Regions from separate parts of the Homo sapiens genome. Here regions 1 and 2 are each linked to region 3. Evidence: fine-mapped expression QTL. A gene starts in region 3. Each other region holds a variant in brackets. All regions are shown on one strand. Distances are between the middles of the regions. Region 1 has its middle 8.3 kb from the start of CCR9. Region 2 holds the start of LOC124909374 (a long non-coding RNA gene). Region 3 holds the start of LZTFL1 (leucine zipper transcription factor like 1).

The links. PIP is the estimated chance that this variant, and not a neighbour inherited with it, causes the effect.
Region 1: its variant is the best candidate, but not a certain one, in a credible set for the expression of LZTFL1 in whole blood (TOPMed, PIP 0.62).
Region 2: its variant is the best candidate, but not a certain one, in a credible set for the expression of LZTFL1 in whole blood (TOPMed, PIP 0.59).

The regions. Positions count from the first base shown.
Region 1 is chr3:45,876,855-45,879,620 of GRCh38, forward strand. It overlaps a transcript of LZTFL1 not described here. Among named protein-coding and RNA genes, the nearest start is that of CCR9, 8.3 kb to the right of the region's middle. The variant G/A (reference allele first, on the strand shown) is at 1,646.
Region 2 is chr3:45,863,587-45,866,352 of GRCh38, forward strand. It overlaps LOC124909374 (a long non-coding RNA gene), which reads left to right and starts at 1,368. Exons shown (of 2, transcript XR_007095900.1): 1 at 1,368-1,669. It also overlaps a transcript of LZTFL1 not described here. The variant G/A (reference allele first, on the strand shown) is at 1,278.
Region 3 is chr3:45,841,066-45,843,831 of GRCh38, forward strand. LZTFL1 (leucine zipper transcription factor like 1) reads right to left here and starts at 1,054. Exons shown (of 10, transcript NM_020347.4): 1 at 924-1,054. The coding sequence starts at 926.

The DNA of each region.
Region 1 (2,766 bases), 36 kb after region 3:
TTTGAGATGGAAAGGAAGGCTGGACCTGGCTGGGTTAGTCACAGGACTGGGGAGTGGAAGGGTAACTATTCCCCCAGCCTTCCTCCGGGCTCTCTTCAAAGCCTCCTGGACACAAGACAGCAGGGATGGAAGCCGAGACAACAGCTGTCTCTATCTTAGGTCATCTCAAACATAGGGCAAGGGAAGGCTTCCTCAATGCATATCAGAGGAAGAGAAAAGTAGGAAGGGATCCCAACTCCTGCAGCCCAAGATATAGCGAATAAAATCGTGAAACTATTGAAAAATAAACTCCAAGTTTAAAAGATACTAAACAGACCTCTTTCCAGTAGGGCTTCTCAGAACCTGTGAGTGCTGCTTCACCTTTTTCACAAGCATCTCTTTTTTTTTTTTTTTTTGGAGACAGAGTTTTGCTCTTGTTGCCCAGGCTGGAGTGCAATGGTGCCAGCTTGGCTCACCACAACCTCCGCCTCCCAGGTTCAAGCAATTCTCCTGCCTCAGCCTCCCAAGTAGCTGGGACTACAGGCACACGCCACCACGCCTGGCTAATTTTTGCATTTTTAGTAGAGATGGGATTTCACCATGTTGGTCGGGCTGGTCTCGAACTCCTGACCTCAGGTGATCCGCCTGCCTCGGCCCCCCAAAGTGTTGGGTTTACAGGCGTAAACCACTGCGCCTGGCCACAAAGCACCTCCTTTTGCTGGACACCTGCCCACAGAACTCTGTTTGGGAAGGCTGCTAGATATTGTTTTGGTTTTTCTTTGGTAAATTTTTTCCAAATATGGTTAATACTGAAAATTGGGCTGTTATTTCTAAGGTGAAACTCCATGAGTAATCTGAGTCCTGTGATGGGGTCTTTGTTTTAAAGCATAATTTATTTCATTTATTAGTTTTTTTTTTTTTTTTTCCTGAGACAGAGTCTAGCTCTTTGTTGCCCAGGCTGGAGTGCAGTGGCTTGATCTTGGCGCACTGCAACCTCTGCCTCCCAGGTTCAAGCAATTCTCTCACCTCAGCCTCCTGAGTAGCTGGAATTACAGGCGCCTGCCACTATGCCTGGCTAATTTTTGTATTTTTAGTAGAGACAGTGTTTCACCATGTTGACCAGGCTGGTCTCAAACTCTTGGCCTCAAATGATCCACCCGCCTCAGCCTCCCAAAGTGTTGGGATTACAGGCATGAGCCACCGCGCCCAGCCCATTTACTAGTTTTTAACTGACAAATAATAATTTTATTTATGGGGTACAATGTGATGTATCTACATGGTGGAAAGATTAAATTAAGCTAATTAGTATTTTCCTCACCTCACCTACTCATTTTTCTTGTGGTGAGAATGTTTAAAAATCTATTCTTTCAGCAATTTTGGAATATGCAAAACATTATTATTAACTATGGCCAGCACCAGCCCGAGGCCTGAAGCTTTCCTCTGGGTCTCCCTTGCAGGGGCCTGACCTTTTGATGTGATTGTTTTGATGTGGCCATTTAGAAACTGAGGCTATTTTCATGTAGCTATTTTGATGCTGTGGAAATTTTCTGACTTTTCAAAAACTAGCCACTGAACTTTCAGCTTTTGAAAAAATGATCAAGTGTTAATATACTATAGGGCCAGGGACAGGGCAGGGGTTGGCGCTATGGACAAAGTGGGGCAGGGT[G/A]AGGCTGGGGGATGGGGCCCATTTCTAATGTAATTTCTTATTTAAAAAACTAAACATGTAAAGTTCTGATTTTTAGGGTCACAAAGGCCCTCAAGTAAAAAAAAAAAAAAGCCCCTCTATGAAAGACACTGTTAAGAGAAGGAGAAGACAAGCCCCAGACTGGGAGAAAGTATTTGCAAAAGACACATCTGATAAAGGAATGTTATCCATAATATACAAAGAACTCTTAAAACTCAACAATAAGAAAATAAGCAACCCAATTAAAAAACAGGCAAAAGACCTAAAGAGATACTTCACTGGGCCAGGTGCAGTGGCTCACGCCTGTAATCCCAGCACTTTGGGAGGCTGAGGCGGGCAGATCACGAGGTCAGGAGTTCGAGATACTTCACTGAAGAAGATATGCAGATGGGAAATAAGCGTATGAAAATACATTCGACATCATAGGTCATTAGGGAACTTCAGATTAAAGCCACACACCTATTAGAATAGCCCAGGCCCTAAACACATAGCACCAAATGCTGGTAATGATATGGAGCATCAGGAACTCTTATTGCTGGTGGGAATGCAAAAAGGTACAGCCACTTTGGAAGACAGTTTGGCAGCTTCTTACAAAACTAAACATACTCTCACCGTATGATCTAGCAATCGTGCTTCTCAGTATGTACCCAAATGAGCTGAAACTTATGGCCACACAAAGATCTGCACACAGATGTTCACGGCAACTTTATTCATAATTGCCCAAACCTGGAAGGAACCAAGATGTCCTTCAGCAGGTGAATGGATAAATAAACTGTGACACATCCAGACAATAGTTTATGTTATTCAACACTAAAAAGAAATGAGCTAGCAAGCCATGAAAAGACATGGAGGAGCCTTAAATCCATATCAGTAAGTGAGAGAAGCCCATCTGAAAAGGCTATATACTGTATGATTCCAACAAATACGGCATTCCGGAAAAGAAAAACTGGAGACAGTAAAAAGGTCAGTGGTTGCCAGGAGTAAGGTGGAAGAGAGGGACGAATAGGTGGAGTACAGAGGATCCTTAGGGCAATGAAACTATTCTGTATGTTATTTTAATGGTGGATACATGTCATACATTTGTCCAAACCCACAGAGTGTTC
Region 2 (2,766 bases), 23 kb after region 3:
TCCGATGTCACAGCATCCCCTGTGACGCAGTCTAGCCAAAGATGTTTAACTTGGGTCTAATCAATATGTAGATGTAACTTCCAGGAAATACAAGGGAGAGAGGAACAAGCTAAATGACACCACTGGCAAGCAATGTAGGGGGCCTCTATCGGCCACTGGCCAAGCAGCTGCAATAAGAAGCTACCCATGAAGAGACTGGAGGCTGGATTAAAAGATAGAGAGAGGACATAAAAGCCAGGTGCAATGTGTGGTCCAGGATTGGTTCCTCGTTTGGACAAAGAAGCTGGGAAGGACATTCAGGGAAACATTTGGTGAATTTGAATAATATAATGGCTATTAGATGATATTAAAGAATGATTATTAATTTTAGGTGTGATAATGTTGTTGTTTGTCAAGCAGGAAAGTGTTCTTTTTTTAAGAAATGTATTTTGGGGGCAATGTCATGCATGATATCTCTAACATAACACACAGCTGGACACTATGTGGGAGACTGACTGTGATGTTCAAGTCCCCTGTGGAAAGGTTGAACAAAAGTAGACATTTAACCAACATACTTGTCAGAGACTAGCAGGTAATGTGTAATTATAAATTGCTATCAAATTACTGAGTAAAAGTTTTGTGAAACATTTTCTAAAGTTTGAGAGTAAAGAGTAAAAAAGAGTAGCATATTAGTTCAAAATAATGAGGAAGGCATTATCATAGGAAGATAACAAAATTTTAATACGTGATACCTGATTTAATTTTAATATTGCTACTAGAACCTAATTTCCACTTGTCATAATGAAGAATTTTTATAACTTTTCTTCACTTATTGCTACTCAAAATCTTCATCGACTAGTAAAAATCAACCACAGGGCAACTGTTATAAATTATGGTATGTCCATATCTGAAATATTATGAAGTCATTAACAATTAAGATGTGGATTTAATATTTGGTTAATATTTAATGACATGAAAACATTTATGCCAATGTTCAGTGCAGAATATGCAACTTTATTACAATATAGTCCTAATTTTATGTATTAATAAGTGTAAAAGATTTAGCCCCCAGGTTATTGCTGAGAGAGGGATAAATAAGTACCATTTAATGTAGTCCTAGTATCATTAATTATTAAAAGAATATAAGAGAGAAAAAAACACACATGAGGAGACAGTAAAAAACTGTTTAGCTGACCAAGTGAGTGCTGCATTATTGTCTGTTTTAACAAGGGAGTAGGTTTTCTCACCACATTCAGCCAATGTGGTAAATTTTCTAACATGATAAAAAGAAACTCCCA[G/A]TTTTACTCATTTCCAGAGCTGAAAGTTGAAGAGTTGAAGCCCTTTTGCCCTTCTCAGAATGACTACACTTAAAGTGAGCTTCCTCACCACCAAGTACCAGAACAAATGGTGGGCCTGGAAAGGCAATTCTGCTCTGAGGAACGTGAAACAAGCATAAACCGAATGTGATGGCAGAGCTGTCACACCTTGTGGCCATCGATTACATTTCCACTGACCGTTCTATCACTCTCCAGAAGGGTGATCATGCCTGTGCTGCTCCCAGAAGACCCAGATCCACCGAAAGAAATGCAATCCTTCCCCACAGGCAGCCTTTCCTGAGGAGAAGAAGGAGCTTCTCTAATTGTCACATGAGTAGAAAATGTTGAAGAGACCTGCCTCTTTCAGAGGAAGGGTAAACAGAATTCTAACCACATTTTAAAACACCTCTTCCCTCTGCTTATTGAAGTAGGATACTCAGCAACAATTCAAAAGATTGAGGTTTACATGCACTGATGAGGAACGACCTCCAAGCTTCATTGTTCAGTGAGTGAAACCAGAGTTAGAGCAACAGAGCTCACAAAATCTCACTTACACGCACTACATGCTTCCACATGCAAACACGTGCACATGCACACACATGCACAGACTCTTGCAAAGAAAAGATGAACACACACCAAACTTTTAATGATAAATATGTATGACGAACTAGGAAAGGGATGGAATAAAAGGGAACGTTCACTTTTCTTACTCTATATTTCTGAAGTTTTTGGATTTTCTTTTTATAACAGGAGGTAAACATTTAGTTCTTATGTAATTTTAAGAGAGGGAACGATGAATTCATACACTTCTGGTAGAAATGTAAAAATGATACAGTCATTTGAAAACAGTTTGGCAGTTCCTCAAAAAGTTAAACATAGAGTTATCATATGACCCAGCCATTTCACTCCTGAGTGTTTACCCAAGAGAGAAAGAAATATATGTTCCTGCAAATACTTGAGCGTTTATAACAGCGTTGTCTGTAATAACCGAAAATCAGAGGCAACCAAATGTCTACAAACCAATGAATGGATAACAAACTGGTATAGGCCATGTAATCGAATACTATTCCACAATAATAGGAAACAACTATTGGTACACATGACAACGTGAATGCATCTCAAAATGATGCTGAGTGAAAGAAGCCAGACAAAAGAGTATTTGCTATGTATTACAATTTATATAAAATTCTAGAAATGCAAACCAAACTATAGTGACAGAAAGCAGATCGGTGGTTGAATGTGGCGAGGGGTGGTGGCGTGGTGGGAGGAAGGAAGAACAAATGGGTCCAAGGACACTTTTGGGGTGATGGATATGTTCACCACCTTCATTGTGCTAATGATTGATCCGGTGTGTACTACAGCAAGATTTATCCAATTGCATACTTTAAACATGTAGTTTATAGTGCGCTAATCATAACTCAATGAATCTACAAAAAAGTAATACATGCTTAATATAGAACATTTTGAAATA
Region 3 (2,766 bases):
TGATTTGTTTTCAACGTGTTCTCCTGATATTTTAGGGAAATCAAGAGAATGAGTGGAGAGGCTCTAAACTCAAGAAGGGGAGGGAGCAATCTGTTTAGCTCACAGGTGTCTTCTCAGCTCCCAGACAGCGCTTGGAACACAGTGTGGACTAAATAGAAATTCTGGTTGCTGAAGTATTTCAGTAGCTATTTCAGGTGGTGCTCTCAACCCTGGTTTCATCCGTTTTCCTGAACATTTCAGTGCTGTGCACTGTTCTAAGTATGACTGGTATTTAAGATGGCATGCTATATTCGCTGGAGGGATTAATGATATTTTTTGAGCAAGCCAAAACAAAGGAAATGTCACCCAAATTCCTCAGCTGTAATACGGGGTGCTGGGATTCTTAAAGTCACCTCCACATCAGAAAGTTGGATTTCAATCACACAGAAAGCTGGATTCGTTCTCCCTGCTCCTCTGGTTACCGCGCGCGCGCGTGTGTCTGTGTAAACCTTAGAGCTTCCTGAAACTGAGTGAGAACCCTGCGTATGTGTTAATGTGTGTGTGTGCGTAAACTTGGAGCTTCTTGAAATAGAGTTAAGAACCCTGCCGTGCACCTTAGGCCGGCAGCAGTTTCCTCTATCTCTCCTCACCTGCCACCTAAGAGTTGTGCCTTGGCTCCAGCCCCCGCAGGCAGGAGAGAAACGAAGCGATGCGGCGGAGCTGGGCTGCTGGGAAAAGGCTTCACCCAGGATTACCCCAGAAGGGCTTGGGCTGCGGTTAACCGAATCTCTCGCGCCCGGCGCAGCTCCCCTTCTCAGGGAGGCTGAGGTGCGGCCAGACCCAACGAGGCCACGTAATCATTCCGGGCCCACCCGCTCAGTGTCTCCAGCCCCGGCCGCGCTCTCTCCTGTGCGCGGTGCGGCGCCTGAGGGTCGGTTACTCACCATGGCGGCAGGCAGCGGCGGCAGCCTAAAGGAACGGGAGAGGCCAGGCGGTGCCCCGCCAAGCCTGGGATCGCCGAGGGTAGTTGGACCACAGAAAATGGGGAAGGAGGGTAGGTTGTTTAGAAGCCTCTGGTTGCTAACGGAAACCGAGGCACGTGGACTGCAATTATGCATTTTCATTGGTCCTCAGGATCACGCGACAGGAAGTATTGCGTAACCGGTTGACTGCCACATGCGCATTGGCTTCCAGGGCCGGAAGTCCCACCTTTTTGTGCCAGTTCACTTTTGGGAGCTGACTGCAGTTGCAGAAGGTAGCGGGAGGGTTGGGCTGCCTGGAGTTGCGTGTGGCCACCAACGCGCTTCGCGCCTCGTGGCGTCCGCTTATGGATTGTTGGGAAGTTCTTGTCCAGAACTTCCTGTGGCATAGGTGACCCCAAGGATGAATGGACATCCCAGACCTTTCAATGGTCTCATAGGGCGCGGCCCAGACATTTTTTTTTTTCAGGAGTTCCTACCTGAGCATCAGGGTGGCTGAGACAGGCCAACAACACCAATGCCAGCAGGTTCTCAAATAGAGCTTCAAACGACCCCTCCCCATGACTCCGCCCATTATTATTACTGTGTTGTTATTATCTTCTCTTATATTTCCAGCTAAAAGTCTCTAGCAACATTTTTCCATTTAAAAAAAATGCAAAAAGCATGGGTTTTCTCCGAGAGCAGTGAATTTCAAAAGGTTCCATATGCCTGGAACTACTATGGAAGCTTGTTGAACAAATTCCTGGGCCTTATCTCCAGAAATTCTGATTCACAAGTCTAGCTTGGGTCCTTGGGATCTGCACTTTTTAACCGATGTTCCAGGAGTGATCACAGATCAGGACCACTCTTAGAAACACTGGCTTGGAAGGACAAGTGTAGGATGAGATCGATTATTGCAAATACCAGGGACTCAGAGTCCTTCACTCACATGATACAGAGGTGATGTGCAGGCATTTGCCCACAGAAGGATCTCAAGCCTTGGGTCAAGAACAGTAAACAAGGTTCTCCTGTGTGTCACCTGGAGCATTCCAATGCACGGAATGATGGCCTGAAGGCAGTGGCGTGGGTATGCCCAACTTCAGCTTTGGCTAGGCTCCCTACCCTTGGCACTGCAATGGCATTTGGGCAGGATCCCTGTCTTCTTGAAAGATTCCTAAGGGCAGATTCTCTCAACCCTGAATATTAACCCCTTCCAAGCTCAGTTAAACTTCCCCTTTACCATCCCACCTCCCCATTTCTGTTTAGTGAGTGTTGTTGAATTTGGTTGCCATTATTTAGTGCCTACTATGAGCTATTAATAGACACATTCCATTCCAGTAGTTAATCCTCATAATACGTGGTTCTTTCCTCTGTAGACATTCGTTGTGTTCACATAGTGAGAGGGTCACTTTACAAGGTGTTGTGGGTGCGAGATGAAGTTCATAAAAACTTTTATGACTGATCAGTAAACAAAGTTGGTCATCAGCTTGCACTGCTGAAAAGCTCGTTTATTTTCTCCCAGGCCAAATCTTGTGATTGCGAAGTGTTATCAATTCAAGGGAATGAAAGGAGCGTGTGTATAATGCAAATATTACATTTGTGGCTTGGGGATTTTAAAATTTGTTCTGCAAAACTCCATCAGCTAGTTATTGTAATTTAAAATTCTGCTTTAATCTAAAATCTTCTATACCAAGGAGGTTAATCACCATTAGCCAATCTACCCAACAGAGTTGAGTGTTGTTACATAAGCTGTCTAAATAGTGTCAGCAAATCTGAACATGAATTTTAGTCTCAAAAGTGATGAATTTGGCTCATGAAAAGGCTGAAC